5 separate regions of the Homo sapiens genome follow, and all the other regions are linked to region 5. The links come from fine-mapping of genetic effects on gene expression. A gene starts in region 5. Each other region holds a variant in brackets. All regions are shown on one strand. Distances are between the middles of the regions.

Evidence for each region. PIP is the estimated chance that this variant, and not a neighbour inherited with it, causes the effect.
Region 1: its variant is fine-mapped to the expression of CCT6B in whole blood (TOPMed, PIP 0.96).
Region 2: its variant is fine-mapped to the expression of CCT6B in monocytes after Pam3CSK4 (Quach 2016, PIP 0.95).
Region 3: its variant is fine-mapped to the expression of CCT6B in whole blood (TOPMed, PIP above 0.99).
Region 4: its variant is fine-mapped to the expression of CCT6B in cerebellar hemisphere (GTEx, PIP 0.96).

What each region holds. Positions count from the first base shown.
Region 1 is chr17:35,007,703-35,014,194 of GRCh38, reverse strand. LIG3 (DNA ligase 3) reads right to left here. Exons shown (of 20, transcript NM_013975.4): 20 at 4,452-6,492. RFFL (ring finger and FYVE like domain containing E3 ubiquitin protein ligase) reads left to right here. Exons shown (of 7, transcript NM_001017368.2): 7 at 2,046-6,492. The coding sequence ends at 2,227. RAD51L3-RFFL (RAD51L3-RFFL readthrough) reads left to right here. Exons shown (of 7, transcript NR_037714.1): 7 at 2,046-5,083. Among named protein-coding and RNA genes, the nearest start is that of LIG3, 30 kb to the right of the region's middle. The variant G/A (reference allele first, on the strand shown) is at 2,767.
Region 2 is chr17:34,867,365-34,873,856 of GRCh38, reverse strand. The region is part of intron 2 of LOC105371742 (a long non-coding RNA gene); the gene reads left to right. Among named protein-coding and RNA genes, the nearest start is that of CCT6B, 91 kb to the left of the region's middle. The variant TGG/G (reference allele first, on the strand shown) is at 2,580.
Region 3 is chr17:34,893,399-34,899,890 of GRCh38, reverse strand. The region is part of intron 2 of LOC105371742 (a long non-coding RNA gene); the gene reads left to right. Among named protein-coding and RNA genes, the nearest start is that of CCT6B, 65 kb to the left of the region's middle. The variant A/C (reference allele first, on the strand shown) is at 2,579.
Region 4 is chr17:34,124,880-34,131,371 of GRCh38, reverse strand. It overlaps a transcript of ASIC2 not described here. Among named protein-coding and RNA genes, the nearest start is that of LINC01989, 56 kb to the left of the region's middle. RefSeq lists a silencer at 2,839-2,958. The variant A/T (reference allele first, on the strand shown) is at 3,482.
Region 5 is chr17:34,958,079-34,964,570 of GRCh38, reverse strand. It overlaps CCT6B (chaperonin containing TCP1 subunit 6B), which reads left to right and starts at 3,111. Exons shown (of 14, transcript NM_006584.4): 1 at 3,111-3,314; 2 at 4,921-4,984; 3 at 5,877-6,011. The coding sequence starts at 3,178. ZNF830 (zinc finger protein 830) reads right to left here and starts at 3,031. Exons shown (of 1, transcript NM_052857.4): 1 at 794-3,031. The coding sequence starts at 3,004. The coding sequence ends at 1,886. RefSeq lists enhancers at 2,738-2,987, 3,068-3,147, 3,198-3,417, 3,518-3,567 and a silencer at 3,287-3,581.

The sequences.
Region 1 (6,492 bases), 50 kb before region 5:
CTTAAAGACCACCACTGGGCCCTCAGGTACTCCCAGAACACACTGCAGAACTCCTGACCATCTGTGGGGACATTCTAAAATATGCTATGTGTTTTCAAAAGCCTCAAGGGTATATGGTTGTGAACTCCCTTCCAAGAGAGAACGTTCTAAGAGTAGTGTTGGACTAGCCTGCAGCATTTTAAAACTTATTTCAGAAGATTTCCCAAATTTATTTAGTAAAATGGCCTTTTGCTCAGAATGGGCAATTTTATGTCTGATTACTTCTAATCAGACATAAAAAACAGTTGAGCTTTTCTCAATTCCCCAAAACCATTTGGAGTTCTAGACCCACCTCCACCCTCCAACCCCCCAGCATCACCGGTACCAAGATCAGGCTGATCTACTTGGTGCTTCCTTTCTTTTTCTGATTCCCTGGGAGAATGCTGACAACTGAGTTAATGTGTTTGTTGTTACTTCTGAGAGAATGAGTAACTGAAAATTATAAATTATTCCCATTCATCTTAGGTATTTGTATAGTCTCCAAACCTCTGTTAGGACCAACAGCACCTCAAAAGAGGCAAATGGGTTTCACTCCCTTTCACACCCAGCCTACCTCCTAGGGGGAAGTATTTCTTGACTTTTTAATAGTCCAGAAAAGAGAAAGTATAGATGCAATAAGGGAGAATTCCTCTATGGGTTGGCCAACCCCCAGATGGTAGAGGTGACTTCTGTGAGATCAGTTCCTTTTTATGGGTACCTACTTCAGGCTACAATTTAAGACATATTGGAGATGGCTGGGCTTTTGAACATTATTTTTTCTGTTTGGGTCAGCTCTACTAGGATACTGGTCATGCCCACTATATTCTGCTAGTGACACAAGCCAGTTAGCATTTATTGAGAACCCTGTGCACTCAGCAGTTGATACTGTCTGGATAGTTTCTACTCTTAGGGCAGTTAGGCAGAAGGCCATTCTAGAGCAGGAGCTGTGGGGCCAGCCTGCCTGGGTTTGAATCCTGGCTCCTCGACTTAGCAGCTTTGTGCCCTTGGGCAAGCCACTTAACTTTTTTGCCCCAGTTGGCCTCATCTATAAAATGAAAATAACAAGAGGTCCTACTTTATAGTTTTTGTGAGGCTTCAGTGAGTTAACACATGCAAAGCTTTCAGGACCCTGCCTGGCACACGGTAAGCATTCAGTAAATGTGGGATGTTGTCATTCCCTTGGGAAGATGTTCATTCATCAGACATTTAGAGTACCTACCATATAACTGGCATTGGGGGCTTCAAAGATGAATATCTAACCTTGGAGCATGGAATAAATGCTAAGCATATAATTGTAAAAATTGATTGAATATGTTGAATTAAAGAGCTCATAGTCTACTCTGGGAGTAAGTAGGCAAACTCAAAATTTTAATCCAATGTGATAAGCAGTCATGGGGGTATAAAAAAGTTTTGTGGGGGTAGAAAGAGGGAGCAGTAATCTCTGCCAAGTTTCTCCACCAGGAAGTTTCCTCAGGAAACCTGGGAGTAGTTTGTGAGATAGCAGAGGGGTCCCCCATGATCCCTGACTTTATTAAATGGAGGATATGTTTATAGATAAAGCCTTGTGATCCTTAATGAACCATTCATCACAGTTCCATTTCTATCTAAACTTTTCTGAACCAGTTTTATCTTTTTAGCCTGTTCTGCCTCAGGGGATAATGAGTCCCTACGTGCCACTCACACACTCACTATATTACAGCCCCAACAGTCTGAAAATTATTTCTTTTAAGCTTTGAGAACTTTGCCTTAGTTCTCATGTTCTGGGATGTGTCTGATCCACAAGTGCTGTGTACTTTTCAAATCTTTACCTGTTGGAGGGGATGAAGTGTGGATTAAACAAGTAACCAGAGTTGGTTATTGAGGAAATGTTTCCTCGGAGGAGCTCTATTTGAGGGAAGCATGTGCACTGAGACTTTGTTTACAATGTACCTGTTATCTCCCACCTCCCTCCCCCAGTCACCCCTATACACTTAAGACATTCTCCTCACTCCTCTGCCCCTTTTTTTCTGCCCTGTGTGTTTGTACAGGGGGAGCAGTACCATCAGGCTTGGAGGAGAACCTGTGTAAGATCTGCATGGACTCACCCATTGACTGTGTTCTTCTGGAGTGTGGCCACATGGTAACCTGTACCAAGTGTGGCAAGCGCATGAATGAATGTCCCATCTGCCGGCAGTATGTAATCCGAGCTGTGCATGTCTTCCGGTCCTGAGAGCTTGCATCGGTTTCTTCAGTGCCTTACAGGGAAATAGCCTGGGGTGTCTGGGCTCAGGGTTGGCCAGCTTGCAGAGGAGCAAGCTAGTAGAAATATTGCAGGGTTCCCAAAACCAGGTCAAGCAAGATGCCATGTCACCCCTGAGCATGCCTGTCTTCCCAGGGGTGTACCTCTTGGCTGGCAAAGCCCAAGGCCAGTGGGAACTTGTATAAATCACATGGGTATGTTCTTGGTTCAGTGATCTTGGAGTGATGATGGTAACTGATGAACAGAGAACTTTCCAGAACTTGGGTCCTGTCTTCCTCCCTGAACCTAGACAGTTTCACCCCTCCTCCTGTACCCAACCCATCCCCACCCCATATGGGAGATGCTTGCCCATGTGTTTCATCAATCAGAAGTCCTCCTCCCCAGCACATTCGGATTTAAATTTCTGGTCTCTCCGGCTTTCTGTGCTTTAACTATCTTTGCTAAAGTCTCTTGCTACATTGCCTAAATCCATTTGTTTCTTTGGACCAAAAATGTTAGTTTACCAGACC[G/A]ATAGTGGTCCTTAGGACAGATTTTAGACCAGTAAACTTATCTTTGGTGAGAAATGAAATACAAATGCTATAGAAAAATTTCAAAGTTGTTAAAAGCCACTTCATTAAATGCTGGGATTGGAAGCTGTTGGTCTCCTGACCTGACTCTGGGAGCCAACAAAACATCAGGCTCCCAAACTGCTGGGAAATTTGTTTCTGTCTGCAAGGGATAGTGCGTGCATAATCCCTGCTGCTGCTTCTCTTGGGACCTGATTTGCACCATCCTTAGTTTATGCGGAAAGGGGAAGCAATGGGTGGAGGCAGTGGCCTTCTCCTTAATTTTGGCTTGGCTTCTGATCCTTTTCCCAACTAGAAGTCTTAAGCCACTTTTCGCTGAAAATGAAATCCCTCCCTTATCCATGGTAGTTTTAAATTTGGTTTCATTGAAGAAATAGATTTAGGCAAAGAGCCTGTGCTCTTCTCTGGCCAGACTGCTGTTGAAGTTCCTGGAGAGCAAATGTTAAGACAGAGCACTTAAGAGCTTTCAGGAGGTACTGAATGAGACTGGATTCTGTTGTAAGCCGACAGTTCAAGTCTTTATTTCCCAGGTTGGTGGGGAGTGAGGAGACCCTACTTTCATTCCCTTTCCTAGCCCACTGATTTTTGGGGGCAGGTCAGGGAGAAAGCATTTTTTTTTTTTTTTTGAGTCTCACTCTGTTGCCCAGGCTGGAGTGCAGTGGTACAGTCTTGGCTTACTGCAACCTCCACCTCCCAGGTTCAAGCTATTCTCCTGCCTTAGCCTCCAGAGTAGCTGGGATTATAGGCGCCCACCACCACACCAGGCTAATTTTTGTATTTTTAGTAGAGACGGGGTTTTACCATGTTCACCAGGCTGGTCTTGAACTCTTGACCTTATGATCCGCCCGCCTCAGCTTCCCAAAGTGCTGGGATTACAGGCGTGAGCCACCACACCCAGCAGGAGAAACCATTTTCTAGGCTCTTTAGGAAGGACCATGCAATGAGTAGGTGATGTATTTGAGCCCTCACAGTCTTTACACCCCTAGAGGAGCTGGAGGACTTAAGAGTTTGCTGCAGAAGCGTGGCCAAGCACAAAACACATGATCAGGAAAGCAGAGTGTTTTCCCATTACCAATGGATGAACTATGCAAACCCTAAACGCCTTGGCAGACACCTCCCACCCCTTACCCCTCCCATGCAGCTGAAAAATCTGAGACTAGAACCAATCATGACTCTGGATGGCAGAGGGAAACCTCTAAAGGGACTTATTACATTGGTACAGACATATTTATGCTTTCTTCCATCACCAACCACTAAACCCCTTTGGAGGAATGAAATAACTGCATAAACTAGTCAACTGAACACTGGGCCACTTACCTCAATGTTATACAAAGTCCTGGATGATTTGATTCTGAACCACAGCCTTTGCAGGAGTTGGGGGAATCAGATTTGCTCATGAAGACATCCCTTTCCACTTTTGTCATGGGCAGTAAATACTATAGTTTACAATGCCTACCAATTAGCAAAGGATCATTCATTCAGCTACTCAGTTCCTCTGTAAAACAGGTCTATGTATGTGCAATTCAGCTAAGATCTAGCAGTAACTTAAGGGCAGAAGCTGGCTCTCTACTTACAACCTGCTTTCTCTGCTGAAGCCTTACCTCCTCTTCAGTTTCCCTCCTAGACACAAATCGAAAATAATATACTGATAGCTGGTTAGTAACCTCAGTAAGAATTAAAACTGAGGTTGTTTACTCATTTTGCCTTTAAATCTTTTATCCCCTTTTGGTGAAGGTTTCCCTTTAGGAAAAAAGGTGTCAAACAACCCTGATTTTTTTTTTTTTTGCATCATTTTTATTACACCAAATTAAAGTTGGGAGTTCCAAGATCCCATTCCAGTTAATATTTAACCAAGGTCTAAAATTTGATTTTTTTTAAATCTTTGAATCCTCCCTTCTGCCCCTCATGGATCCTTGGTTTTAATGATATGGAAACATCTAATTCTTAGAATTATTCCGTAGCTTTTGCTGATTACTCTGAGATTTCAGTTAAGACTTGTTTCAAAAGACAGATAGCTGACTGGTTCATAATACATTGGAATAGTTGGATCCAAACTAATAAGAATAAGCTGTACAGGAACTAGTGCTCAATATACATTGTATAAATTTGTGGAAATCTCTTGGATGTGAATTGTTACTTCAAGTGGCTTTTATTAAGATTTTCTCAGACTTACTTGGAGGTTAAAGCAAACCCAAATGTGTATTATTTTGTTACAGAGCTCTGCTTTATAATTTTGTAATAAAGTTTCAATACAGACACCTGTCCTGTCTGGTGCGAGGATGTTAGAGGTTGATAGGACTGACAAAAGAGCCTGACAGTGGTTCATGCTATAATTTCCACACTTTAGGAGGCCAAGGTGGGAAGACTGCTTGAGCTCAGGAGTTTGAGACCAACCTGGGCAATGTAGTGAGACCTTGTCTCTACTTAAAAAAACAAACAAGGGCCGGGTGCGGTGGCTCACGCCTGTAATCCCAGCACTTTGGGAGGCTGAGGCGGGCAGATCACGAGGTCAGGAGATCGAGACCACCCTGGCTAACACGGTGAAACCCCGTCTCTACTAAAAATACAAAAAATTAGCCAGGCGTGGTGGCGGGTGCCTGTAGTCCCAGCTACTCGGGAGGCTGAGGCAGGAGAATGGTGTGAACCCGGGAGGCGGAGCTTGCAGTGAGCCAAGATTGCGCCACTGCAGTCCGGCCTGGGCGAAAGAGCGAGACTCTGTCTCAAAAAACAAAACAAAAAAAAACACAAACAAAAAACCCAAAAAAACCAAAAAATTAGCCGTGCATGGTGGTGCATGTGGGTAGTCCCAACTACTTGGAAGGCTGAGGTGGGAGGATCACTTGAGCCAGGAGATTGAAGCTGCAGTGAGCTCTGATCGCCACCGCACTCCAGCCAGGGTGACAGAGTGAGACCCTGTATTAAAAAAAAAAAAAAATTGACAACTGATAAACCACAAGCTAATCCTGGGATGTGCACATGGCCTGGGATTAGCCTGTGGTTGGGCCAAGTGACCTTGGTCAAGATGCTCAGTGTTGTTGTAACTAACTAACTTGCTCAAGACCACAAATGTAATATATGGAAGAGGCCATGGAACAACCTAGAAGAGAATGAGAGCTGGGTAGGTAAAGGATGAATCCCAAGACCAATTGGGTTGAAGCACCAAGTGAGTTCAGATATTTACACTGATCTAGAAGAGATGGGCCTTAAAGAACTGAAATCTGAGGACAGTTAGTATGCCCAGTTAGGTCTTCAGGTTACCCTGGGAGATACATGGTACCTTTTGGATACAGCTGTAGTACAGCTGGACTATGGCTCAGAAAAGGTTGGCCCAGGCTGGGCGCCATGGCTCACGCCTGTAATCCCAGCACTTTGGGAGGCTGAGGTGCGTGGATGACTCGAGGCCAGGAGTTTGAGACCAGTCTGGACAACATGGCGAAACGTGGTCTCTACTAAAAATACAAAAACTTAGCTGCGAGTGATGGTGTGTGCCTGTTTGTTAAGTCTTAGCCACTTGGGAGGCTGAGGCATGAGAATTGCTTGTGAACCCGGGAAGCAGAGGTTGCAGTGAGCTGAGATTGCACCACTGCACTCCAGCCTGAATGACAGAGCAAGAGTCTGTTTAAAAAAAAAAAAAAGGTTGGCCCAGCCTCGTGACAGACTGCTGTGTGT
Region 2 (6,492 bases), 91 kb after region 5:
GTTCAGTCGTGATCACAGGAAACACAGTCCTTGCTCATGGGGACTTCTCCATGCCCTCAAAGGAAGCTTTGGGGTCTGCAGACCTGGGTTTGAATCTTGGCTCTGTCCATTATTATTATATGTTCTCAGGCAAGTTGCTAAATTGCTCTGCCTCACTTTTTTCATATATAAAATGGGGTTATTACAAATAACAAAAGAAAAAATAGATACATTGGACTTCATCAAAATTAAAACTTTTGTGCTTCATAAGATACTAGCAAGGAAGTGAAAAAATAACCCACTGAATGGGAGAAAATATTTTAAATCATATATCTGATAAAGAACTTGTATTTAGAATATATAAAGAACTCTTGCAACTCAATAATAAAGGGACAAATAACTCAATTTAAAAATGGGCAAATGGCTGGGCATAGTGGCTGACACCTGTAATCCCAGCATTTTAGGAGGCCGAGGCAGGCAGATAACCTGAGGTCAGGAGTTCAAGACCAGCTTGGCCAACATGGTGAAACCCTGTCTCTACTAAAAATACAAAAATTAGCCAGGCACAGTGGCACGTGCCTGTAATCTCAGCCACTTGGCAGGCTGAGGCAGAAGAATCTCTTGAACCTGGTAGGTGGAGGTTGAAGTGAGCCGATATTGTGCTATTGCACTCCAGCCTGGGCAACAGAGTGAGACCTTGTCTCAAAAGAAGAAAGAAAAGAGCAGAGAATCTTAATAGACACTTCTTCAAATAAGGCACACAGATGGCCAATAAGCAAATGAAAAGATGCTTAATATCATTCCCCTTACGGAAATGCAAATCAAAACCACAATGAGATACCACTTTATCACTTTATATCTGGTGGGATGACTATATAAAAAAGATAGATAATAACAAGTGTTGAGGAGAATGTGGAGCAATTGGAACCCTCATGCACTATAGGAGAATATAAAGTGGTGAGCCATTTTGTCTGGAAGTTCCTCAAAAGTTAAACGCAGAGTTTCCATATGACCCAGCAATTCTGCTCCTACGAATATACCCACAAAATAATGAAAACATACATCTACACAAAAATGTGTACACAAACATTCACAGCAGCATTTATTCACAATAGTCAAAAGATAGAAACAACCCAAATGTCCATCAGCTATGAAATGGGTAAGCAAAATGTGGTATATCCATACAATGGAATATTATTTGGCCATAAAAAGCATGAAGTACTAATATATACTATAACATGGTTGAACCCTGAAAACTTAATGCTGAGTGAAAGAAGCCAGTTGCAAAAGACCACATATTGTATAATTCCACTTACGTGAAATGTGCAGAATAGGAAAATCTACTGAGATAGAAAGTAGATTTGTGGTTGTCTAGAGCTGGGTGGATGAGAGGATTGGGGTGAAATGATAACTAAAGGGGAGAGGAGTTTCTTTCTTGGCGTGATGTAAATGTTCTAAAATTGTGGCGATAAGTCACACAACTCTGTGAATAGAATAAAAACCATCAAATTGTGCACTTCACTGGGCGAATTCTGCAGTATGTGAATTGTATCTTCACAAAGCTGTTGCCAAGGAAAAGTGGGGGTTATTAATAGGTTCTACCTCTCAGTTTTGTTGTGAGGGACAATGAGATAAAGCACAGCCTCTAGTATATAATGAGCTCTCAGTAAGTGCTCACTATTTTATTATTACCATTATCACTGGGCCATTGGAGATTGTATGCAATAAGGAACAGAGTAGCTAGCATACTTCCTGACGTGTAACTGTTGATTCCAACGTTAGTGCCCACTCCTTTCTTTGGACGGGCAAATCTTGGAGGTGCAGGAAGACTCCCACTGAATCCAGGACTCTGGTCAAGCTTACCCTGTGGCAGGAATATTTACAGCTCCACTTGGGAGCCTTAAGCAGCCAGGGCAAAGTTTGGTTTTGGCCCCATAACAGGGTTTATTAAAACTACAGACCTCTAAGTTTCTCCAGAGAAACTCAAAGGGGCATTTGTGGTTCAAGTCCTGTCTGCCAACCTGTCCGTTTCACTGCTCCCTGTCCCTCCATCCCACTCAGGTAGGAGCTCGGCAATTTCTCCTCTTTGTTCTGGGTTTGCTCAGTAAGGAGCTGAATTATTGTCTTTATTATTGGGCCCCCCTGAGCATTTTCAATTTGAATCCTTCCCTGTAGCCTAAGTCTTTCCCCTCAACTTCTCTTTGTAGTGCAGATTAGCTACTTGGAAGGATATTTTACATTATTTTGCTCCCAGGAGGCATTGAGAAGACACAGGGCTGAGCTGGGGGTTGAGGTGGGAGGCTTTGGTGCAAAGATGCTAGTTTTATTGGTTTTAACTCTATCCCACAATTCTGGTCCAGGACACAGCTCTTGGGCCTGTCCTTCTTATCATTCACCTTCCCTCTCCCCCAGCCATTTTCCCCCCATCTCATTTATCAGCTACAGTGGTAAGTGTGGGTATGGCAGGAGGGAGTCATGGATATGAGGGAATAACACTGCACCAATTCCTTTATTTCCCCATAGTAGTATCTAGTACAGAGAGGGAGTTTCAGGGTCCTGTTTTCACACAGGGCATATGTGTGTGTGTGTGTGTGTGTGTG[TGG/G]AGAGGGTAGAGAGAAAGAGACAGAGAGAATATGTGTGTGTGTGTGTATGTGTGTGTGTGTTGAAAAGAGACCCAGAGGAATATTCCAAGAATTCTAACATCAGAATAATAGGAACTCCAAAACAGAGAAAACAAAGGGGTAAAGATTATTAAAAAACAATACAAATAATTGCCTACGTGGAATAACCTGAATCTACACACTGAAAGGGTCTGTCAAGACTGGGCCAATTGGAGATCCATGTGAAAAAGAAATGAATCTTAGTTCTGATATCATACTATACACAAAAATTAATTCAGGATGGATCATAGACATAAATGCAAAAAGTAAAGCAATAAAGTTTCCAAAGGAAACCTGCCCCACCCCCCAGAAGAATTGCTTCATGTCTTTGAGATGGGCAAAGGCTTCTTAAACAGAATTAGAAAACCCATTAATTATAAAAGAAAATATCATTAAATAAGACCCTATTAATTTTTGTTTTGTTTTGTTTTGTTTTGAGACAGAGTTGCCCTGTCACCCAGGCTGGAGTGCAGTGGCATGATCTTGGCTCACTGCAACCTCTGCCTCCCAGGTTCAAGCGATTCTTTTGCCTCCTGAGTAGCTGAGATTACAGACGTGTGCCACTATGCCCTGCTAATTTGTGTATTTTTAGTAAGGACAGGGTTTCACCATGTTGGCCAGGCTGGTCTTGAACTCCTGATCTCAAGTGATCCACCCGCCTCAGCCTCCCAAAGTGCTGGGATTATAGGCATGAGCCACCGCACCCGGCCAACCCTGTTAAAATCAAGAACTCCTCTTCAGTAAGAGACCATATTAAGATAGTGAAAAGGCAAGCCAAAAATGGAAAAATATTTGATTTTATATACATATATATATATGAGGTAATTTCCCAAGTGGCTACTTTTTTAAAGTTATCAACTGGGAGGAGATATGAAGGGACTCACTGGGGTCCTGGAAATGCTTATATCTTGATATGTATTATGAATTTGATATATATAGGATATATATCAAATTCCTTTTTTAGGTATATGTGTATACACACACACACACACACACACACACACACACACACATATTATTCACATATATCCAAAAAAGGAATTGTATCTACAGTCTATAAGGAAACCACATAAATTCATTCATAAAGGAAGAAATTTTTACTTTTAAGATAAACAAAGGATTTGAATAGGCACTTTACAACGAAAGTCAATAAAAGAAATACAGAGTGGTCAATAAACATATTAAAAAGTGCTCAATATTATTAGTCATCATGGAAATGCTAATTAAAACCACAATTAAATACCATTACATCCCTACTAGAATTGCAAAAATAAAGGTCTGAAAATACTGGCAAGAATGTGGAGCAACTGAAACTCTCAAACATTGTTGGTGGTAGTTTAGGTTTGTACAATCACTTTGAAAAGCTGTTTGGCAGGATCTACAAAAGCTAAATATATGCTTACCCTGTGATCCAACCATTCTATCTATAGATATACACTCAAGTGAAATGAATACTTATTTCCACCAAAAGACATGTACAAGAATGTTGTAGAAGCACTGTTTATAATAGCTCAAAACTGGGGACAATTTCACTAAGTGAAATAATTCAGAAACAGAAAGTCAAATACTGCATGCTCTCACTTACAAGGGGGAACTAAACAATGGGTACACGTGGACATACAGGGTGGCATAACAGACATTGGATAAAATATAGAAGGTGAAAGGATGGGAGGGAGATGAGGGTTGAAAAATTACATATTGGGTACAATGTTCACTATTTGGGTGATGGGTACACAAAAAGCTCAAACTTCACCACAACATAACATATGTATGCAAGAGGCCTGCAATTTTACCCCCTAAACATAGTTTTTAAAAAACTTGGGACAATTCCAAATGTCCATCAACTTTGTTTAAAGAAATTGTACACACAACAAAATATTATGCAGTAATGAAAAAGAACTAAAAACCTCTACATGGAACAATATGGGTGAATGTCAGAGAAATGTTAGGCAAAAGAAGTCAAACAAAAAAAGAATACATACTGTAAAAGTCCATTTAGATGAAACTCAAAAAAGGAAAAACTAATCTATGGTCATAGAGGTCAGAACAATGGCTACTCTTGGAAAGTTATCAACTAGGAGGAGACATAAAGGGACTCATTGGGGTCCTGGAAATGTTTATATCTTGATATGTATTTGTGTAGTTTATAATATGTTACAAAATTTGTTACAATAGCTACAAAACTACCTGTAAGTTCCAGCTTAAAATAAGAAATAAAGGGCCCCTTAAGCATCCAACACAATAAATGAAAAGAGCCCACACCAATTCACACATCATTGTGAGTCAAAAGAGCCACAGGAGAAGAGAATATTCTAAAGATTTCCAAGAAGGAAGCCAGGTCACTTTCAGAGGAACAAGAATCAGACCTGCACCAGACTGTCATCAACAACATCAGACACTTTCACATTCTGAAAGAAATGATTTTCAACCTAAGCTTTCTACATCCCACCAACCCATTATTCAAATTGCAAGAACCCATAGACTGTCTCCCATAAATCCTTTTTAAGGAAGCAACTTGAGGATGTCTTTTAATAAGTAAGGGAGTAAACAAAATAGGGGAAGACTGGGAATGCAAAAAGCTATACATAGAAATCAGAAGAGCTGTGCACAAGCATAAAGAACAACCAGTCCAGATTGAAGCAAGAGAACTGAGTGCTCCAGCAGGCAGGGGTGGTGGTGGTCCCTAAATAAAAGGGGAACTCGGTAGAATGGGCTTTATAAAGACTTTTAAAAAATTGGAAATGTGACAAAGACAATTAGGACTAAAGAATAAAGAAAGACAACTCAAAACGTATAAACACACACATACACATTTGTATCTGAAATGAAACTGTGATTATAGTACACTACTTGGCTCTGTAGTGAACAGTCTTTACCTAGGCACAATAATAGAAATACTTTTCAGTGATTTTCAACTCTTGGAATCAATCTGAAAGAACTATTGTGGTTACAGAGTAGATGTAGATATTATCAGTTTTTACAGTGTAAAAGTAGAAGTGTAGATGACAGACAGCATTAGGAGGTAGAAGTGGGAGAGGTGAGGTGAAGGGAAGGATGGGGGTAGAAATATTCTTTTTGTACAATGTACAAATTCTCTTTAAAAAGTGCATCTGTAGAGGATGGAAGATCACAAAAGTAACCAATAGAAGAACTAAAAATAGAGATATGGCAGGAGGGATGGAGGTGGTGTGAGTGAGATAAATCCTTGTCTATTCTAGCAGTAAGTCAATAGATTGTGTCTAAAATTGATGAATCAAGAAATATCAGTAGAAGCATATTATTTAGAAAAATGGAGGTAAATATAAGAAAAGACATTTAAAAAAGTTAGATGTGGCTGTCTAGGGGGGACAGAACAGGGAGTAAGAAGTATTTTAACAGGAAACTGTTTTTAACCTTGTGCATATATGACTTTGAATAAAAACAGACTTTGTTTTTTTTTAAAGAAAAAGGGATGCAGGCCAGATCTAGGAGGAGATTATAAAACCATCATCTTTTCCTAAGGACAATCAAGGCATCAAAGAGCCCCTAGTCAGCCCCCCACCTGGAACAGGACTTCCAGTAATGCTTTGAAATCTGGTGGCTGTGAACTCATTCAGTCTTTACAGGAGCAGAGATTTGGATACTTTGAAATGTCACTAATTTTCTTGCCAAGGCTTCTTTGTGATAAACTTCAGCTCCCCCTTTATCCCCCTCAAAAATACAATTTTCAATAAATAGCAAACTCATAAATAACATGGGGCACCGTGGCTCCTAATGAAACAGTGACAAATGCTATATCTTCATGGGATCAGGAGAAATAACAAAGGGGGGCACATGGAGGGAGCTGGAGCCCTCAGAGCATGTGAGATTTTAT
Region 3 (6,492 bases), 65 kb after region 5:
CACAACACCACCAGGAACTATTATTATTCCCATGGTTGAGATTGAGGTTTGGAGAGAAGTGCCTTGCCCAGGCTCTTGCTGTGGAGGGAGTGCTCCTAGGCTCTGCTGCCTTTCACAGAATGTGAGCAACAACAGCCCCCAGGAGACTGAGCCCAGAGCTTCTCAACAGGTGTGGTGGGGTGGGCTGAGCGCTGGAGACCCTGCCCCGACACTGGGGCACATCTGACTCTCCTGCGGCAAGGAGGATTCAGCACATGGCGAAGCACATTCAATGTTAACAATGATTGGAAAGGAATCTTCCCTTTGGAAGACAAATAAACAAAAACCCTGTATGTTTTTCATAATACAGATCATAGAAGGGGTATGAGATTTGGATGTTGTCCCTGTGTATTGGTCAGGGTTCTCCAGAGGAGTACAGCCAATCAGATGTGCGTGTGTGTGTGTGTTTGTATACATTTATTATAAGGAATTGGCCTACACAATTATGGAGGCAAGTCCCATGATCTTCAGAGTGAATTTGAAAACTGAGGATCTGGGAGAGCCAAAAGGTGGAATTCTAGTACAAGTCTGAAGGTCTGAGAACCAGGAGAGCCAATGGTGTAGTTCCTGTCTAAAGACCTGCAGGCTTGAGACCCAGGAAGAGCCAATATTTCCCTGAATTCCGAAGGCAGAAAATAGCCCATGTCCCGATTCAAAGGCAGTCAGACAGGAGGGATTCTCTCTCCTTACTTCAGTGAGGGTCAGCCTTTCTGTTCAATTCAGGCCTTCAACAGATTGCATGAGGCCCACTCACACAGGGGAGGGCAGTCGCTTTACCCATTCCACTGGTTTAAATGTTAATCTCATCCAAAAATGCCCTCACAAAAGCACCCAGAATAACATTTGATCAAGTATATGGGGACCCTGTGGCTCAGTCAAGTTGACAGATAAAATTAACATCATACCCTGTTTAAGGGGCATAGATTAAAAAAAAATTAGTGAACACTGGTCCAATCTCTTCAATTTGCACATGCACATGAGAAAACTGAGATCTGAAGAGGTGCCCAAGGTCATGGGGTGGGATTGGGGAGAATCTGAGCTTGGGGGTCAGGGAGGCTAGAGGTCAACCTCATATCCTAGTAACTGCATGACTTTGATCCAGTCCCACATCCCCCCTCAGGTAAAATGGGGGGAAGACCACCTAAATCTTAGGGTGGTGCAAGGAGTGAGGTGTTCTAAATGATGAGATGGGCATAGCTTGCAAAGTGAGGCGGGCTCTGTTCTTTTTATTGTTAATTACAGGCAGAGCTAGGCTTGGAAGCTGGTTCAAGGACTCCTTATGGGTGCTCTGCCTGATGTTGGCAGACAGATGTGGCTGTTTCTGTTTTCTCTCTCCCACCCTTGCTTTAATTCCTCCCCACTGTAGCACCCCAGACCCTAGGCGAAGATGGGGTGAGTGCCCCCTCTTCTGCAGCGGTAGAGGGAAGAGGAGGGGAGGAGGAGTGCCATGCTCAGGAGGAGATGGTCGGTGAGGGGTGGGGAGCCTGCCTGGGAGCAGCTCAGGAGCTGCAGCTCCTGTTTGGAAATACAAATTGCAGCAAATTTGTCGTCTCTGGAGAGAAACTGCATTTGGCAATTTCAGTGTTTTTTGTGCTTTGATGCTCCTGTCTGTTTAAGGGGAGGGGGGAGAGAGTGGAGGGAATCAAACTGGGCTTCATTGAGTGGAAAGAGGGGCTGAAAGTGAGCGGGAAAAACAACTGAGGGGCTGAAAAAGGCTCCTCTCCCAGTCCTGGTGGGGAGGGTCTGACTTCTGAGATCTGTCCTTTGGGACTATCCTTCAGCCCTGGTCATGGCTGGGTGGTGGCCTGGGCATACGGCCGTGTTCACAGAAACATCACCAGACTCAGACCCAGAGCCTGTCACTGTCCCTTTCTGGGGGCCTTGCCCATGGGTGGGGACTTGGGCCAGAGGATGGAGTAAAATAATGTGTCAGGCTGGAAAGGCTCAAGCCCAGTGGTTGACCTTCTCCCAGTTGGTAGATAAGAGCAGGGAGTAGACACTTCGGTAATAGCTCTTACTCTGTACCCGGCACTACTTTAGGGCTTTAGATCTATCAACTCATTTGACCCTTACAACAACTCTGTGAGGAGGGTACTATTATTTCCCCTGTTTTGTGCATGGAAACTCTGAGGCACAGAGAGGTTAAGTGACTGGCCTGTGATCACACAGGAAATTGGTGCAGGAACTCAAGGCTCTTACCCAGGTTTGCTCCTAAGTCTAACCTGTGAGGTCAGTCCTGTCTGATCCTCCAAGACCAGGTGTAGGGGAAAGTGTGGAGGGAAAGTGACCAGGGGATTCTGAATCAAGGAGAATTGTTGGGGTCTGTGTGGTTAATCTTGGGGGCTTGCTGGAGCAATTAGAGCAATCTGAGAGGTCCCAGGTTGATGTTGGGGGCACCCCAGGCCTCTGATCCTGCATAGGCAAAGGCTGGGAAGCCGGACTGTGATGAGGGACTTTGGACATCTTAGCAATCTTGGAGACTTATTTGAGGAAGGAGAAGAGACATCAGTGGGCGGAACACTAGCACCTTGGTTCCTTC[A/C]TTCATTCATTCATCAATTTGCTATTTCGTAGCAGGTCCTGTGCTGGGTGCTAGGGATACAGAAATGAACAAACACAGTCCTGGCTCTGGAGTTGCTCACAGTCTTTGCAAGACACACTTGTAACAAGGTGTGATAAGGACTTTGATGTTTGGAGGTACTAGGGGCCCTGGGAGCCCAGAAGAAGGGCATATAGCTGAGGCTGGTTTTCTAAGTGATGAGATGATGGCTAGTGAAAGCTTCCTAGAAGAGGTGACCTCTGAGCTGAGGTATCATAAGAAGCAGCTCTTCCACCAGAGGTTCTCAAGTTTGTTTGGTAGAATCCACCTGGGGGCTTCCAAAAAACCTGATGCCTGGGGCCACCCAGACCTATCAAATTGGAATCTCTGCTGGTAATTCTGCTGTGCAGCCAGCACTGAGCGCTGCTGAATTAGAGGAAGAAAGGTGGAGCAGGCATTCCAGGTTGATGGGGAAGGGGATAAGAGCTAAGACAAGGGATGACATGAAGGTGGGAAAGAGGCAGGCATGTTTAGGGGGCTGCAAGCCAGACCACAGGGACTGTGAAGCAGTGGACAGATGAAGCAGGAAGAGCTATGAGGGCTGCAAATTGGGGGAGCTTGGGCAGACCCTGCAACCCAGGTCCCAGCTGTCTTGGGCAGGAAGCCTCCATGCTGGTAGGCCACCCCATGTCCTGCACCCATCCTGCTGTGCTAGCCACCTCGGTAAGGGGCAGGAATTTAAGGAATACTTCCGTTCCCATCGCTGCCTTTCTGTGGAGCTGTCAGCTGCGCTGCCAGCTGTGTGCAGAGCCCCACCACTTGGAAGAGCACTGGATCAGTCATAAAGAGCCCATGGCACTCAGAGGGAGCTCAGGGCTTCCAGAGCAGCATGGAGGCCTCATGGGGTAGACCGAGTGTGTCTCATGGCCTGTCAGAGACCCTGGGTCCTGGGGGCACCCTTGGAGGGGCCCAATGACTCACCAGGCAGCCCAGAGCCCAGGGCTACTGAGAAGCAGAGGCAAGATCCTGAAGTCTTGGGAGGAGGATGGAAAGGAGCTGAGCCGACTGCTGTGTGCGCTGGTCCATGAGGTGTTTTTCATGTGGCAATGGCCCTCTGGGTGCCAGGCTCTCTGCTAAGTCCTGTCTTTGAGCAGGCTCTGTCTTATGGACTTCTGGCACCAACCCTGAAATTACAGTGTGCTGGGGTCAGATCTGAAGTCCAATCCCAGGGCTGGCTGCTGCAATTTCTCTCTGACCATGGGCAAAGGACGTCTCTTCCATGGGTTTCAACTGCTGTGTTGGTAAAATGGGGCTCACAGTCCTGAAAACCTTACAGGGTTTTAAGATTGAAATGACATGTATGAAATGTTCAGCACACAGTTCAGGATCAGCCACTGATTCCTCTCCAATTCTTTTCTCTGCTTGACCCTGGCTTTCCCCAAGCCATTAGTCCCTGGGATTAAAGAACTCTGGGTTCTTACAGCTGTGCCTTCTGAAAAGTGATCTCAGACAACTCTGAACCCTGTCTGGATGGTTCAGAGTGGCCTTTATCCCTTTTTGCTTCTCAGGGCAGAGTTGTGGCCCCACTCCTTTGCCCTGGTCCTGCCCAGCCCAAGCCCGCTGGCCCTCCTCTCCACACAGAATGCCCAGTCATCTGAACACCTGAGTACCTTGTGATTGAGGCTCTCACCAGTGCTGTCCATGGTTCTGGCCCTGGGAGACGACCCCGGGGGATGTGTGAGGTGTGGATCTCTAGGCGAGAGCAGCTGGTACTCTTGGTGATTTATGAAGGATTCGGGAGAGATGCTTGTTGCTAGGTGACCAGCAGGGGCCAGTTGGAAGAGGTGAAGCAGGACTGCAGTGGGAAACCCAGTCCCTTTTCTTGTTCACTTCTGGGTGAATTCCTGTGCCCTTAAGGGTTCTGTTCTTCTTCTCTTCCCCCTTCCCTTCTCCCCTCATCCAGTGCCATAGAGACCAGAAGTATGCAGGGATGGAACAAAGTCCCAGATTGTTGTCTTGAGATTTTAATTTTCTTCCCTTTTAGTAATATTTTCAGTATGTGTTGTGTGTGTGAGTGGGTGTGTGTGTGCATGTGTGTGTGTTTGTGTGTGTGTGTGTGTGTGTATAAGAAGATAGCTCACAGAGGGGTGGCCATGATGACTGTTTCTCCATAGTGCATGCTTGTCACGTGCCGGGAACTTGCTACATCGTTTTACATAACTCATCTCCAATAGCTCTCTGAATCCTCCTAGCCACCCTGGGAGGTAAGCTATCATACCCTCTTTTACAGATAAAACAAACAGGCTCAGAGAATAAATCAGTTTGTCTGAGGCGCCTTAGCCTGGAAGTGGGAGATTGGGGATTTGAACTCAGGTCTACTTGTATGCTTCAGCACTAAGTACTGTTCTGTCAAGGGTTCCCTGGCTTGGTGAAACCATTCCTGGCCTCAGGACAAAGCTGCATGCAGGGACAGTACCCCAGCCTAGGACTCAGCAGGCTTGAAATCTGGTTTCAAGTTTGTCCCTAGTGACTCACTCTTTGACCCTAGCCAGCCCCTTGTCTTCTCTGTCCTAAATGTGAATGACCCTGTTGAACTGAGCCCCGTGGTTCTTCCTAAAAAGGAGTCCAGGCCCCCATGCATAGCCTGACTCCTGTAGATATGGGGGCTCCAAGTCAAGGGCAGGCCAACTCTTGGAGTCCCCCACAGAGCCAGGAAGAAGTCCATGCTTCCCGTCTGTTTAGTGGTTCCTGGACTCAAGCAGACAGATTTAGCGTGGTTGATGCAAGGGGTCCCAGAGCTGGAGTCTGCAGTGAGCCCAACACTCTGGTGAGGCGTCTGAGATGCAGAGAGCTGACTTGTTTACACTACACTGTGTGCACCAGTGACCCCCATCATCAATCTGTGGGGACATCTTCTCGCTGCTTCTTCTAATGAAGGATCAGGAGCTTTGACCTGGAATCCAGAGCTCTAAGTTATGAAGAGTTTGACTGTTGGATGGGGGAACCTGAATATTGGAGGGCCCAGCACGAAATCCCTCAGCTGGCTAACAATTCATTGGTGGTATCTGGTTACTGATCATTCTTACTCTGCACAGACCTACTGTGTGTCGGGAGCTTTATACACGATCCAAGAATCACTGCATGAGTTGGCTGAGATGAGTTTGGAACTCAGTCAAGTCCATCCCTAGAAGGACTTGCTTTTGAATATGTATGTACCTGGCTTTGTGTTAAAGCCTTCAGAAGTGATGTCCCCTTTCAATCTTTACAAACACCAAATGAGGCAAGAATTATTTCCCTTCCTTTATAGATGAGGAAACCCTGAGACCCTGAGATGGCTCAGGGAGGAAGTGGTAGAGCTGGGATTCAAACCCAGGGCAAAGCCGAGAAGAAACTGCCTCGCCAAGCCCCTGGGCTGGCTTGGCTTGCAAGGAGTGAGCGGACTCCAGTCCCCACTCAAACTAGCTTTTAAATGCTGGTTAGCAGTTTTCCTGGTTGGTGTGGGCACACACTCCTTGCTACAGACACTTTCTAATTAAGAAAAAGAGCAGTAGGCATAAGGTCTTTCTGGAAAAGGGGCTTTGGGCTGAAGGAAGCAGAGACATTTGTGTTAAGGAGATGCTCATGCTCTTCACGTTGCTGCCCTTGGCCTGAAGCTCCTCCCGCCCCACTGGCTCCTTTCCAGTTTCTCCCCTCCAGGCTGCCCTAAGGGCATGACACTGTGTCCACTCAGTCATATCCCTCTACTCTGGACTGACCAGGACTGGAGCATTGGGACCTGATCTTCAGTTGCGGCAGGAGGGATTCTGGTTGGATCCCAGGAAGTACTTCTAGGTAATGGGGGGTTGTGGGAAAGTGGAGGATGGAGGTGGGAGGGGATTTCTTAAGGCCCAGAGTCAGCAGGAGGGACAGTGAAGGGG
Region 4 (6,492 bases), 830 kb after region 5:
TTAGGGAATACAATGGCCTACTCAGAATGGTTATTTCTAATTGATTCCTCCCCAGCTCCTCTCTCTCTTCCATCCCCATTATTCCCATGACCAAATGGCCCTGTCTGAAACACAGCTCTCAATATGTCACTACTTTGTCCCAGTCCATCAATGGCTCTCTATTGTCTTGCCAATCTGCATTTCGAGGCTCAGTTTCCAATTCTTCATGGTGCAAAGCCTAACTCTGCCGTAATATACAATTCACTCTTTCCCGAAGGCTTTCTTTCCCCACTGGCCCCTCAGCTTTGTTCCTACTATTCATTCTCAGAATTCCTCCTTTTTCTCTCCCTTAGCATTGGTTTGTTGAAAGTCTGCTCATCTGCTAATGTCCATCTCCAATGCAGCTTTTTCCGCGAAGGCTTTCTCGATCTCTCCCTACTCGCTGTACTCATTCCTTAAATACTTGTTCTCTGTCCATTGAATAAATGCCTTGGTGCTTTTTACCTAAGGGCAGGCATCAGAGTGGCCGTATAATAATTTCATGTATAAGCTTCCCTTCCCCTGAAACCCATCTTTTCATTTCAAAAAGCATTTGTTGAGCATCTGCTCTCTTCTAGGCAGTTGCTAAGGGATGCACTAGTTATGCAAACATGGGTAATGCAGGGCCCAGCCCTTGGGGAGCTTGCTGCCCAGATGGGAAAACGCATCCTAACAGATTCATTATGGTGTGAGAAGCATCATGGAAGGGAATTCCAGAGTTTGGAAGAGGAAATGCTTTACTCTGTTTGAGGAAAGGTGTGGGCATTGAAGCTTATAAGACCAAAGACACCTTTGTCTTTCAACAGGGACTATATCTTTCTTGTCTCTTTCCCTGTGTGTCCAGACAACACCTGGGACATAGATGATGTCCAGTAAATGTGTGTTGCACTGGGACTAGTTAGATATAGGTTCTGTGTTCTCCAGGCTCCTTTGAGCCCTTGCCCATATCCCCATTTATACGGATTCAAAATCATAACTGTTGCATCTCCTCGTAAGCCATGAGGAGGAAAGCAGTAGTTGAATCTGATTTCAGCACCTGGAAAGCAGTGGTTGAATCTGATTCACTGCATTATCTTTGGAGCCTGCACAGGGTAAGGGTTTAAGGAGCTTTGCTGGGTGAAGTCATGGGTGGCAGTGACTGCCTCTAATGATCTCGCCTTGAAAAGTGTGTGACAGGCTCAGTCAGAGCATTCTGTCTTTCTTCATGTCTCTAATTTAGTCCTTTCATGATGTGCAAATGAATATTAACTCCTAAACCCCACAGATAGCCTGAAGAGTGCAGAGCAATAGCCTTAAAGTAAATGGCAAGGTGCAAGTTTCCATGGTGGCTTTATCGTTCTCTAATTGGACTCACCTGGCTGTTGGATGACAGTACTTCCTGCTCCACTGGGCCAGCTCCTTGCTGGTTCAGGTGCATCCCTCCCAGCTCAGTGGACCCCCTTGAGAGGCAGGACATGGTATGTCTGGAGGGTGACAATAGCTTTAGCCTTTGTTCTGTACTTGGTTCATTGATAATAGGATGCCCCGTCTTCTAGATTTTAAGGAAGCTTTGATCTGGGGATCCAAGAAGATTGGAAGCAGCTACTAGTATGCCCTGTTTTAGGTATTCCATTATAAAAGGCTTCTGTAGACAAAGAAGCTTGAGAAAGATCTTGGTGAAATAGAACTACTTAGATTTCCTCAGGGCAGGACTTCTCATCCATCACCTTTGCTGTGGTTGACAGGTACTGTGAGTCTCCATGAGGGGGTACTATAGGCAGTGATGTTTATTCTTAGCCAAGAACCTTTTAACACTCTAGAGAATAATTTTGGGAATTATTAGTTCCAGGTATAACATGGGACATGGCCCTTTAAGAGTGTGGAAGAGGTTCCTACCCTGTGGTATGTGTGTGTATATCAAATGCGGTCATGTCCTACCAGGATTCCCAAAGTTGATTCTGACAGACAATAATTCCCCAGAATTCTTACATTTTACAGGAAAAGAAATTGTATTCCAAGGCTTGTTATGCTGTACAAGTGGAGAGTTTGGCCTCAGAGTGAGGCAGAGTGGGGCTTGGATGCTGGTTCCACCATATAAAGTCATCTCTGCCAGTTTCCACACCTGTACGTGGGGTGATCCTAGTCCCCACCTCATTAGGCTGTTGTGAGGATTAAATGGGATAAAGGACATCACATGCTAAGCATAGTGCTTGACGTGTAATAGGTATTTAGTAGATGTAAGCTATTAAAAACTAGATTCATACGCTTTTTATTCTCATAGTTCATGAGCCCGTGCTCTCGAGGGTAGGGGGTCAGGCATCACTCTGCACACTGATCTTTAGAGTGTTCTCTTCCTTCGGTGTATTCATGTTCACTCCCTCTGCTGTGGAGCCCAGGAGTTCTCAATATAAGAAACCACTTGTTGATATGAAAAATAACTAGCCGAAACCCCAACCACAGGTGGATTAAATCAGAATTTCTGATGGTGGCGCTGGGGCATCTGGCAACTTTTAAAGCTCCCCAGGAGGCTCTGATGTGCAGCTGGAGCTGAGCTAGACCGAGACTACCCCCTCTGCTGACACAACCTCATTCTTCCTCCAGCCCCAAACTTTCTGTAGAAAAGGGGAAAAAAGCCAATGCTGACTTTTTTGCATGTAGTAACACGGCATCAAGAAATGCTTCATTTAAAGAGAGTGCTGGAGGCAGTAACAATAATAACTTGCTTATCTAGCGCACAGTTCTAGTGCTAGAACTACTCCCATAAATGTGGGGTAGGCAGAGCAGGGACTTTTTCCCTTCTCCACTGAAAGGATGAGGAAACTGAGGCTCTTGGAAGTTAAGTGACATCCCTCAGGTCATGCAGTGACATAAACAGGCCCCTCCTCCTCTACTATCACATTGAATAAGTGTGGTTTGCAGGGGAAAGTGAACCACACTGCAGCGGGTGGCCCAAGGCAGGCACAGTGGGACCAGGGAGGTTCATGGTTCCCTTGATGCATTACAAGAACAGCTTCACCTGCTTTGCCAGGTCCTATGAGGCTCCCTGCACCTGGGGTCCCTGGGAATTCAGTGAGCTGAACTTCTCAATAGGGACAAGGTGTGGCAGAGTGGAATCCCACGGGCCACTTTGATAAGACTACTTTGCCTCCCTTTACCCAATAAACCCTCACAGCTTCTGATGTGTTAGTTATTCACACCCATGACCTGGGCCTTTTACTCCCCATTTGATTCCCTTTTTCTCATCCTCTACCTCCTTCTTTTCTTCATTCTCCTTTTCTCAAACATTTATTAAGATTGTACAAGGTGTTAGGCACCCGTGGGATGTGGTATCATCATCATTATATATTTGTGGCTGTCAGTGTGCTCTCCTTGCCTCTCTGAGATTCAGGGAGGTTGAGTAACTTCCCCACAGTCACACAGCTAGAATAAGGTAGAGCTCACACATGGATCTAGCAGGCCCAGTCTCCTTTGCCCAAGGCCCGGG[A/T]TGCTCAGCATAGAGAAAGCCAGGTTGGCTCTGAGCCAGTGCCAGTCCAGGGATCCCTGAATTTGCTCTTTGTACAGCCTCCTCTTTTATCATATTCTTTTCCTTGCATGGGACAGTTTCTTGTATTCTTGAGTTCAGCCCTCCCTTCTTGTGGAGGGCTCAGGTGGCATCGGACTCCTCCCTGGAGCTGTTGCATCCGTCCTGCAGCAGGAAGAGCAGGGGAGCTGAAGCCCCCAGCTGCCCCACTGAGGGAGAGAGTGTGTGTCCAGGCTGAGAAGAGGGGTCCCTGCACTCCATGCCTTCCCTCTCGATTCTGCTACCTATACGTAGAGAAAAATTGATTGCTGCATGACTGGTTTGGAAATGGGAAGAGGCTGATGGTCTGGGAAGAGAAAGGGGATGCATCCACAACTAAATTGAAACTCTGGCTGTGGGGGCCACATTGTCTGGAGCCTGGTGTTTTACGGACTCAGAACAAATTCTAGAATGTCATAGATGGAGGGTAAACCCAAGACCATCTTGTTTTTTGCTTTATAGAGTTCAGAATGAAGCTAAGGAGAGATCAGCAATCATGAGAGTTAGAGACAGACTGGGCAAGGCAGGGAGGCAGGGAGATGCAGAGGCAGACCCAGATCTTGTGATAGGAAGTCCTCATTTCTAGTTTGAAAAGCCCCGATGCTCATACTGCCTCCTTTGACCCCCTGGCCTTTCACATAGAAAACTTACTCATAACGAAAAACAAACCCCCTCTTACTGAAGCTGATTTGAGTTGTGTGACTGTTACCTGCAGCTGTGGATTCTGCCAAATGCAAACGCTTACTGGGAGCCTACAGGCAGACTGCTTCATTGCTTATCCATGGGCCCTCCCACCTTAATTTCTTAGACACTCTTCAAGGGCACCCCTCTGTCCTGAGTTGGAGGGTGGAATAATCTGGGAAGAGGCTTGTGCTCCCTGTCAGGGATGTGTATTTTCCAGGGACGTGCCCGGGCTACTCAGCACATGGTTCACGCACTAGCAGCATCAGCATCACCTGGAAGCTGGGTAGAAATGCAGCGCCTCAGGCCCCGCTCAGCTCTGCAGAAACGGAATCTGCAGCTTAACAAGGTCCCCAGGTGACTCATGTGCCCACTAAATTGTGAGAAGACTGTGTGGTCCCATCCACCTCCATCCCCTGCCTGTGCCTGCCTTGCCTCTTCGTTCAGAGTCAGAGAACCTCATCTGTGCTCTAAGCAGCAGGCCGGTGGTACTGCTGACCAAGAGTTGGTAGCTCTGTCCTGACAGTGGATGAGAGGTAATGGATCAGCCAACTCCCTAGGGAGGCTGAGAGAGAAGTGGAGAAGAGGGAACATCTCTCAGTGTTCTCCCTGATGTTGCCGTACAGGACTGAGGTCCTTGGCATGTTCAGAAGGCTGAGGCTAAACAGCCCCATGCAGGAAAGGCAGGCTGGTGGAGTCTGGGAAAAGCAGGCATAGATCTCACCTCTGGGGTGCTTTATTTATTCCGTACTTTCCTCCACCACCCCAGGCTGTGGGATAATGAGGCTTGGCTGCTTGGTTTTGAGTATGAGGCAGTGGAGTGGGCTAATAACTGTCACAGATGATGCCTAAGTCTCACTGGTGTAGCCTTTAGTCACAATAAACTTCCTTTCTGCTTACATCACAATCCAATCAAGGCTTTGATAGGCAGTCCTCCTCATGACAGCTCAGGGCCAAGCCTCTTCCTGTATAATGGCTCTGTCTTCCCCTGGAGCCTTCAGTCCTCCACTGGGTCCTCTATGTCTTGCCATGAGATGAGGGGAGGAGACACACCAGCTCTTGAATGTGCCTACCCAAGGTAACCCACTTTACTTGCATTCACACTTCATTGAGCAGAAAGCTTAGTCCACAGTCCCACTCCGCTCCAGTGGAGGCTGTGACATGTGGGATAGCCGTGTGACCAAGGGGAGTGACGTGGATGGGGGGCATGGCCTCCTGTGTTCCACAGTTACCTCCCTGCCCTCTGGCTGCTCTCTGGAGCTCAGGATTTGGTATCTGAGCTCGTACCTGGATCCTCAGTTTCAGAAGCTCCAGCTCACCCGCAAACCATGTCTTAGCGGCTGTGGTATTGTGGAGACATCTAGGCATGAGAACACAATCCCACAACCTACTACTTGTGGGGCTGTGGGCAATTCATATAATCATGTTACACCTCAACTTCCTCCTTTATAAGATAGGAATCATTCCTACAGATCGTCTTACTCATTTATTAAAATACACTGAGAGGATCTGAAGTGCTCCAGCCCAGAGATGGTAGCCACAGAGATCCCATGGGACAGTCTGGCACTGTCATTTGGGTATCGTTTCAGTCTATTCCCTTCTGAGACTGGTTCTCTGGTCTCCTGGAGATTCCATGAGCTACCTAACATCCTCTAACAAATTACTTTTCTGATTACACTGGCTAGAGTGGGTTCTGTGGAATTGGTGCTGTCCCCAAGACTGCATTAAGACCTTCAGTTGTCTTCTGATCAAGATTATGATGTTTCATCATCTGCACCCAAGTTAATTAGAAATAAAAACAATATAAACCACACACACATGCGCACACGTATACACATTGTGTGCCAGGACCTGTGCTGGGTGCCTGGGATAAACTAATGACAAGGCCTGGCCATTTCAGCGGATGCTGGCCTGTGAAGCGGGGGGCAGACACTGGGCATACAGTGCTGTTGTGTGTCAGTAGCACTGTGGTGAGGGCATGCAAGTCTCAATGGGGACACGGAGGAAGAAGGACATGAGTCTGTCCTGGGGTATAGGTAAGGCTTTGTGGAGGAGGTGTCTCTGGAAGGGAAGGGAAGACGTTTTTCCAGAATAGGGAAGGAAAGGCACTACAAGCAGAGATGACATACATAGAAGTCCTGATGTGTGGGTGAACAGGACATTTCCTGTGATCTATGACATGGGGAACACTGAGGATTTTTATGGACTACATGTTGGTGATCCCCCAAAATTTGTATCTTGAAAGCCTAATCCCC
Region 5 (6,492 bases):
TTAGGCAGTGACACTAAATACAAACAAAATCTTGAATCCCATACTTATCCCTCCTGTTTTTCTTCTTCCACTTCTAGTCACTAAAATTTAGCTATTCTGGCCGGGCGTGGTGGCTCACGCCTGTAATCCCAGCACTTTGGGAGGCCGAGGTGGGCAGATCACGAGGTCGGGAGATTGAGACCATCCTGGCTAACACGGTGAAACCCCGTCTCTACTAAAAAATACAAAAAATTAGCTTGGCGTGGTGGCGGGTGCCTGTAGTCCCGGCTACTCGCGAGGCTGAAGCAGGAGAACGGCGTGAACCTGGGAGGTGGAGCTTGCAGTGAGCCGAGTTTCCGCCACTGCACTCCAGACTGGGCGACAGACCGAGACTCCGTCTCAAAACAAACAAACAAAAAAAACAAACAACAAAAGAATTTAGCTATTCCTATGACATGCTTTCACTTCTATTCCTTTTCTCCCAATCCTCAGCTAATCAGTCTTGTCACCTTGCTTTTGAAAATATAGTTTTCAAATAGCTCCTAGCTTCCTTCTACCCTCCGTGTTCATTCCATTCTATATACTGTTAATAATGTCCCATGATACTTCTTTGCAGATGTAATTCTTTGCTCAAAACCTCCATTTTCATATGAACTTCATCAAAAATTTTCACTTAGCATTCAAGGCTTTTCAAACCTTGTCTCTTGGTACTCCTCTCCATAAAAAAAGACTTTAGGGAAACTAGATTGAGTTAATATATGTAAAGCACTTAGAACCATGCCTGGCCCATACTAAGAAATATATAGGTCTTAGCTATTATTATTATTGCTCACTTTTATTTGAATATGCTGTATGCATTTCAACTCCAGAACACTGCTAATTCCCTTTTCCTATTTGAGTACCTCAATCTCTAAAGGAAGGAGTGATTTAAACTATCAATGACCAGCAAGAGCCAATTGTTACTGCTGGAAAGACAACTTAAATATTCTTTCTACAATAGATAGGACCTGCAAACAAGGAACCCTAATTTACCACCAAATAACAAAATTTAAGGCTGGATGAAATAAATAAAAGATAATATTTTTTCCTTCATTCAAGAAACAGCAAATTTATGGAATGTGTTATTTAAAGAAAAAGAAAAAACCTGAAAAACATAAATGGGTTCTGGATTTAGGGCAGTTACTCTCTAACCCTGGCATATATTAGAATAACCTGGGTGCTTAAAAAACACAGTTGCCTGGGCCCAATCCCAGATTTATTGAAGGGGAAGGCCTCAGACACTTTAATTATTTTAATGCTTCATAGGTGACTCTCATGTGCAACCACATCTGACCATCATTGGTTTGGTCATGTTTGGCATATAGTTTTCTTATGTTTTTAAAATAAAGCACACTAAGAGAACTGATTAACCTACAATGACTTATGTGTTTATGAAGTGTTCTAAAAAACCATACAAAAACCAAAGAAACAAGAAAACAAACCTTTTCAACTTGATGTAGGGTTCAGAAGATACATACATTCCAAATACCACAGTAAGCATTCATCTGAAAGTTTGCCGGTTGGTCTTTCTATTAATTAAAAAAATTCAAAACAGAATACAGATTTAACTATGTACAATATTTACAACTTACAGATTTTACAACGAAATTATACAGTTAAGTCTGTCGTGGAAATGTTGGCATTTTGGTATATAACACTTCAGAAATTTCAAAAACAACTTTACCTCAAAAACATGTTACACAAATTTTCCAAAGTGCTGTAGCTCACTGGCTCATTTTATCTCAACAATCCAGTTTAGCAATCCAGGTACCCAAATCTTGAGGCATGAAGTAACCGCTATACTACTGAGAGACAGCACTTTTTATACAACAGCAGAGGCTGTTAGAAACCTTGGGTCTTTAAAACCCTATAACAATGCCCCTTTCACCCTCCAATCCTGAGACAACAAATCCTGTAGTTCCCCCTCATCATCGCTGTCAGCATTCTCTTCTTCCTTTTTCTGCAGTTCTTTTATGGTCAGGATTTCTTTAAGTTTATTTTTTATTTCATCCTGGCGATTCCGTAGCTTTTCCACCCGTCGGTAACACTCTATCTGCTCATCGATCTCCCCAATCTGGCGGTCCAACCGTCCCTCCTCATCCTCTTCGGCAACTATGGCTTCGGAAATAGTGTTGACCTGCCTCATGGCTTTTTGGAATTCGTCCCACTCTTTGTCCATCTGATCTTTTGGAGCATCAACCTTTCGTACTCTTGCATCTACCTCAGGGTCGTCAAAAAAACCTTCCGGTAACGCTTCCGCGGTGTTTTCTCTCCTTTCCACCACTTTTTCATGTATTTCTGCTTTCTCAATTGACCCTGAATGAGGAATTATGGGGGCCTTGGGAGGATTAGTACTAAAGAAATCGTTTGGCAGCACACTACTTGTTACCTCCCGTGAAGAGGAAACTGAGTGCTCCTTGCCCTGTGCGTCGGAGAGCGGCTTGCTGGCGTCCCCCCTTTTTCTTTCTCCATCTCCTTCCTCCTCCTCTTCCTCCTCCTCCTCATCTTCATAATCGGGGAGTAAACTGAGTCCTGAAGGCTTACTGGGAGTCGCTCTAATGAACTCCTTTCCTATTTTGTCAAAGTTGGTGGTCCACGCAGATGTGGAGGGCTGTACCTGAGGCACCAAGGTGGCCTTCGCTCTCTTGACATCTTGGTCGTCTGCGTCCGGCGCTTTCCTCTTGACGGAATGAGGCGCTGAACTGGCGGACGAACCCTGGCTGGCTTCCTTCGCGCCTTTCAGCTCGGCCACTTTCTCTCGGTGCTGCTTTCCCAGGACGTGAGTCTGCCACAGGAGCTCGCTCTTAACCGGAGTGTTACACAGGGCACAACTCAGCTGCCCCAAACGGTTGTACTTCGCGAATGGAGATTCTATCCGTTTCCGACTGGTGCTCAGACGCTGCTTCTCCTTCATTAACCGCCGCAATTCTTCCTGATTTATCACTCGCTTCCCTGCCGGAGTCCGGGCGGAGGCGGAGGACGCCATCTTGGCGACCAGACCCAAAACGATTCTGGTTTCCGTCGGGCGAGGCATGATAACGTCACTTCCTGTAAGGGCGATGATTGGCCGAGGCTCAAGAGAGCGTGGCGTCGCATTGCCGTTTTTGCTCAGAATCGCGACTAAGGCTTTTTTTTTTTCTCCCTCTGAACGGTTAGGCTATGGCTGCGATAAAGGCCGTCAACTCCAAGGCTGAGGTGGCGCGGGCCCGGGCAGCTTTGGCTGTCAATATATGCGCCGCCCGAGGGCTGCAGGATGTGCTGCGGACCAACTTGGGTCCTAAAGGCACCATGAAAATGTGAGACAGCGGTTGGAGCGGCCATTACGCGGCTAGGGGCCCGTTGGTGTCCTGTCGCCCTCTGAGGCAGGCGTCCGCGTAGCGCTGTGGATGTTCTTGCGAGCTTGATTTCCCTCATTCTCATCCCTGCTCTGGGGGTATTTCTCGCCTGGTGCAGGTGGAGGAGAAAAGCCTCCCCTAGTAGAGGGCCCCGGGAGTGAAGCTGTGGCGCTTCCCCGACCCCCGACTTGTCGTCAAGGTTCATATGCAGTTAGAAAGTCAGTTAATTTAGTGTCTCATTGGAAACAAAGCATTTAACTCCTCTGCTCCTTAAGACTGTATACCCTTGGTCCATAAATTCAACAAGTAGTTTTGTTTTTTGTATGGCAATGTATTGTAGTGGAGAGGACACAGGCTTTGGAGCCAGGAAGGCATGGGGTCAAATCCAAGTTCTACTTGAATACCCCGTGTCTATGGTTGTTCAGATCTATTCATCTTTTCAGTATATATTAAGCACCCTTTTCTATAGACAAGAGTGAGGAAAAGAGACCAGTGAGGGCAAAAGGGTATAAGAGGAGAGACACATCCTCATAGTAATGAACAAAATAATATTAATGGTAAAATAAGTCACTTAGGTACCAGTTGTTGGGACACAGAAATGATCAAGATAACGGTTTCTGTTCTTAAGGAGATGTGGTAGAGACGGATGTGGTAGAGTAGGATGTGCTAATTATATATAGATGCATATAATTATGCTGAAGAAAGGGACTGATGGCAGAAGGAAAAGCATCTTAAGTAACATGTTTGATCAGTCTTGAAAGAAGAATAAGACTTCACTAGTTGGAAGAGGGAGTAAAGGCCTGGGCAAAGTAATTTCAGGAATAAGAAAGACCAATGGTGCAAATCCAACAGAAACGAAACAAAACATGGTATATTAAGGGAACCAGAAGATTTGCTTGTGGAAAAGTAGATGAGGCAGGGAAGATATTGGGAAAGGTCAAGTATGTCATTGCTGTGTTTGGATTTTAACTTGAAAATGATGGAAAACATAAAAATCATTGGAGGACTTTTGATCAGGGAACTGACTGAATCACGTTGCCTTTTAGAAAGAAAAATGTGTGGAGGGTATATTTAAGTTTGGAGATATCCGGATGCCATCCAAAGTAGAGATGATAACAGTGGAGATGGAGAGAAGGTGGCAGATTCAAGAGATATTTAGGTAGTAGAATTGATAGAACTTGGTGATCTAATAAATGCAGGGATGAGGGAAACTAAGTTGAGTGACTGAATGAATGAAAACATTCACCAAAATTAAAACCTGCAGGAAATTTGCGAATTTGTGCTTTGTAGACTTCCAAGTATTCTTTGACCAAACCACAGTTCGTAACTCATCAAGTGCTTTTATCTTTAAACCTGTAAATAGTCCATTTGGAATGAAATCTCCATAATCTGTCCATCTGGGGAGAAATGATTCTGTGAGCTGCAAATGGTGGTAATTACCATGGCATATTCCCATGGTACAGTGGAAGTTTTCCGAGCCCAGTTCCCTCTATTAAGGATAATGGAGTGGCAAGCACTGGGAATGTCTTCCTACCACATGAAGTTAATATCATTCTTCTCTGAACAGGCTTGTTTCTGGTGCAGGTGACATCAAACTCACCAAAGATGGCAATGTGCTGCTCGATGAGATGGTGAGCTGATGCTGCTGACTTTAATAAACCTTAATAAGCCTTAATTAGAAGCATAGTAGAACTTGTGTATCTTTAAGCCAAGGCTGTGAGCTAAATACTGCAGTCTTGAGATATGCTGAAGACTGTTGAATTAGACCTCAATAAAAAAATTTTTTTGGCCGGGTGTGGTAGCTCACTCCTGTAATCCCAACACTTTGGGAGGCTGAGGTGGCCAAATTGCTTGAGCCCAGGAGTTCAAGACCAGGCTGGGCAACATGGTGAAAACCGTCTCTACAAAAAAAAAAAAAAAAAAAAATTTTGCTCAGTGTGGTGACATACGCCTATAGTCCCAGCTACTCTGGAGGCTGAGGTGAGAGGATCACTTGAGCCCAGGAGGCCAAGGCTGCAGTGAATGAGATTGTGCCATTGCACTCCAGCCTGAGTGGCAGAGTGAAACCCTGTCTCAAAAAAAAAAAAAAAAAAAGTTTTTTTTTTTGGCTGTTTCCAAGTCTTTGTATACTTATACATACTTTGTATACTTAGGCATACTTATAAATCAATAATATCTTTTAAGGGCACTGCCTTATGTTCTTTGTAATTATGGAAAAATAAAAATATCCTTTGCAAGTTTAATACATGTATTCATTTTGAGATTGAATGATTTAATCTTATTTTAGAAATGTCATTGCATTCTGAAGCAAAGACTTTTATGAAATGTTCAGGCCTCATTACCTGTCACTTTTAAAATTTTGGACTTGACATTTAGGTATTGATAATACAAAACTTGTAAACTTGTAGAATGAAGCTTATTTCATTTTTTAATTTTGCTACTGACCCCTAGGTTATCTTGCTTTTGGTGACCTACTTCCTTATCTCATCCTGTCTTTTTAAATCTGTTGCTTGCTTTTTCCAGCAAATTCAACATCCAACAGCTTCCTTGATAGCAAAAGTAGCAACAGCTCAGGATGACGTCACAGGAGATGGTACTACTTCAAATGTTCTAATTATTGGAGAGTTATTAAAACAAGCTGACCTGTACATTTCTGAGGTATTAGAATTTCACAGTTTATATGTTATTTTGAATGGCAAATTATTTTTTTAACTAGTAAAATGGTTGAGTTTTAGACAGTTAATTTTGTTTTAATTAATTAATTAATTAATTTTGAGATGGAGTCTCACTGTGTCGCCCAGGCTGGAGTGCAGTGGCAGAATCTTGGCTCACTGCAACCTCCGCCTCCCAGGTTCAATCAATTCTCCTGCTTCAGCTTCCCGAGTAGCTGGGATTACAGGCATGCGCCATCATGCCTGGCTAATGTTTGTATTTTTTTTAGAGACAGGGTTTCACCATCATGGCCAGCCTGGTCTTGAGCTCCTGACCTCAGGTGATCCACCTGCCTGGGCCTCCCAGAGTGCTGGGATTACAGGCATGAGCCACCGTGCCTGGTCTAGACAGTTAATTTTAATTAAGATATTCTTGGACAATTATAAATGGAAATAATAATGAACTTTGTTGGCCAAAATAATGCCTT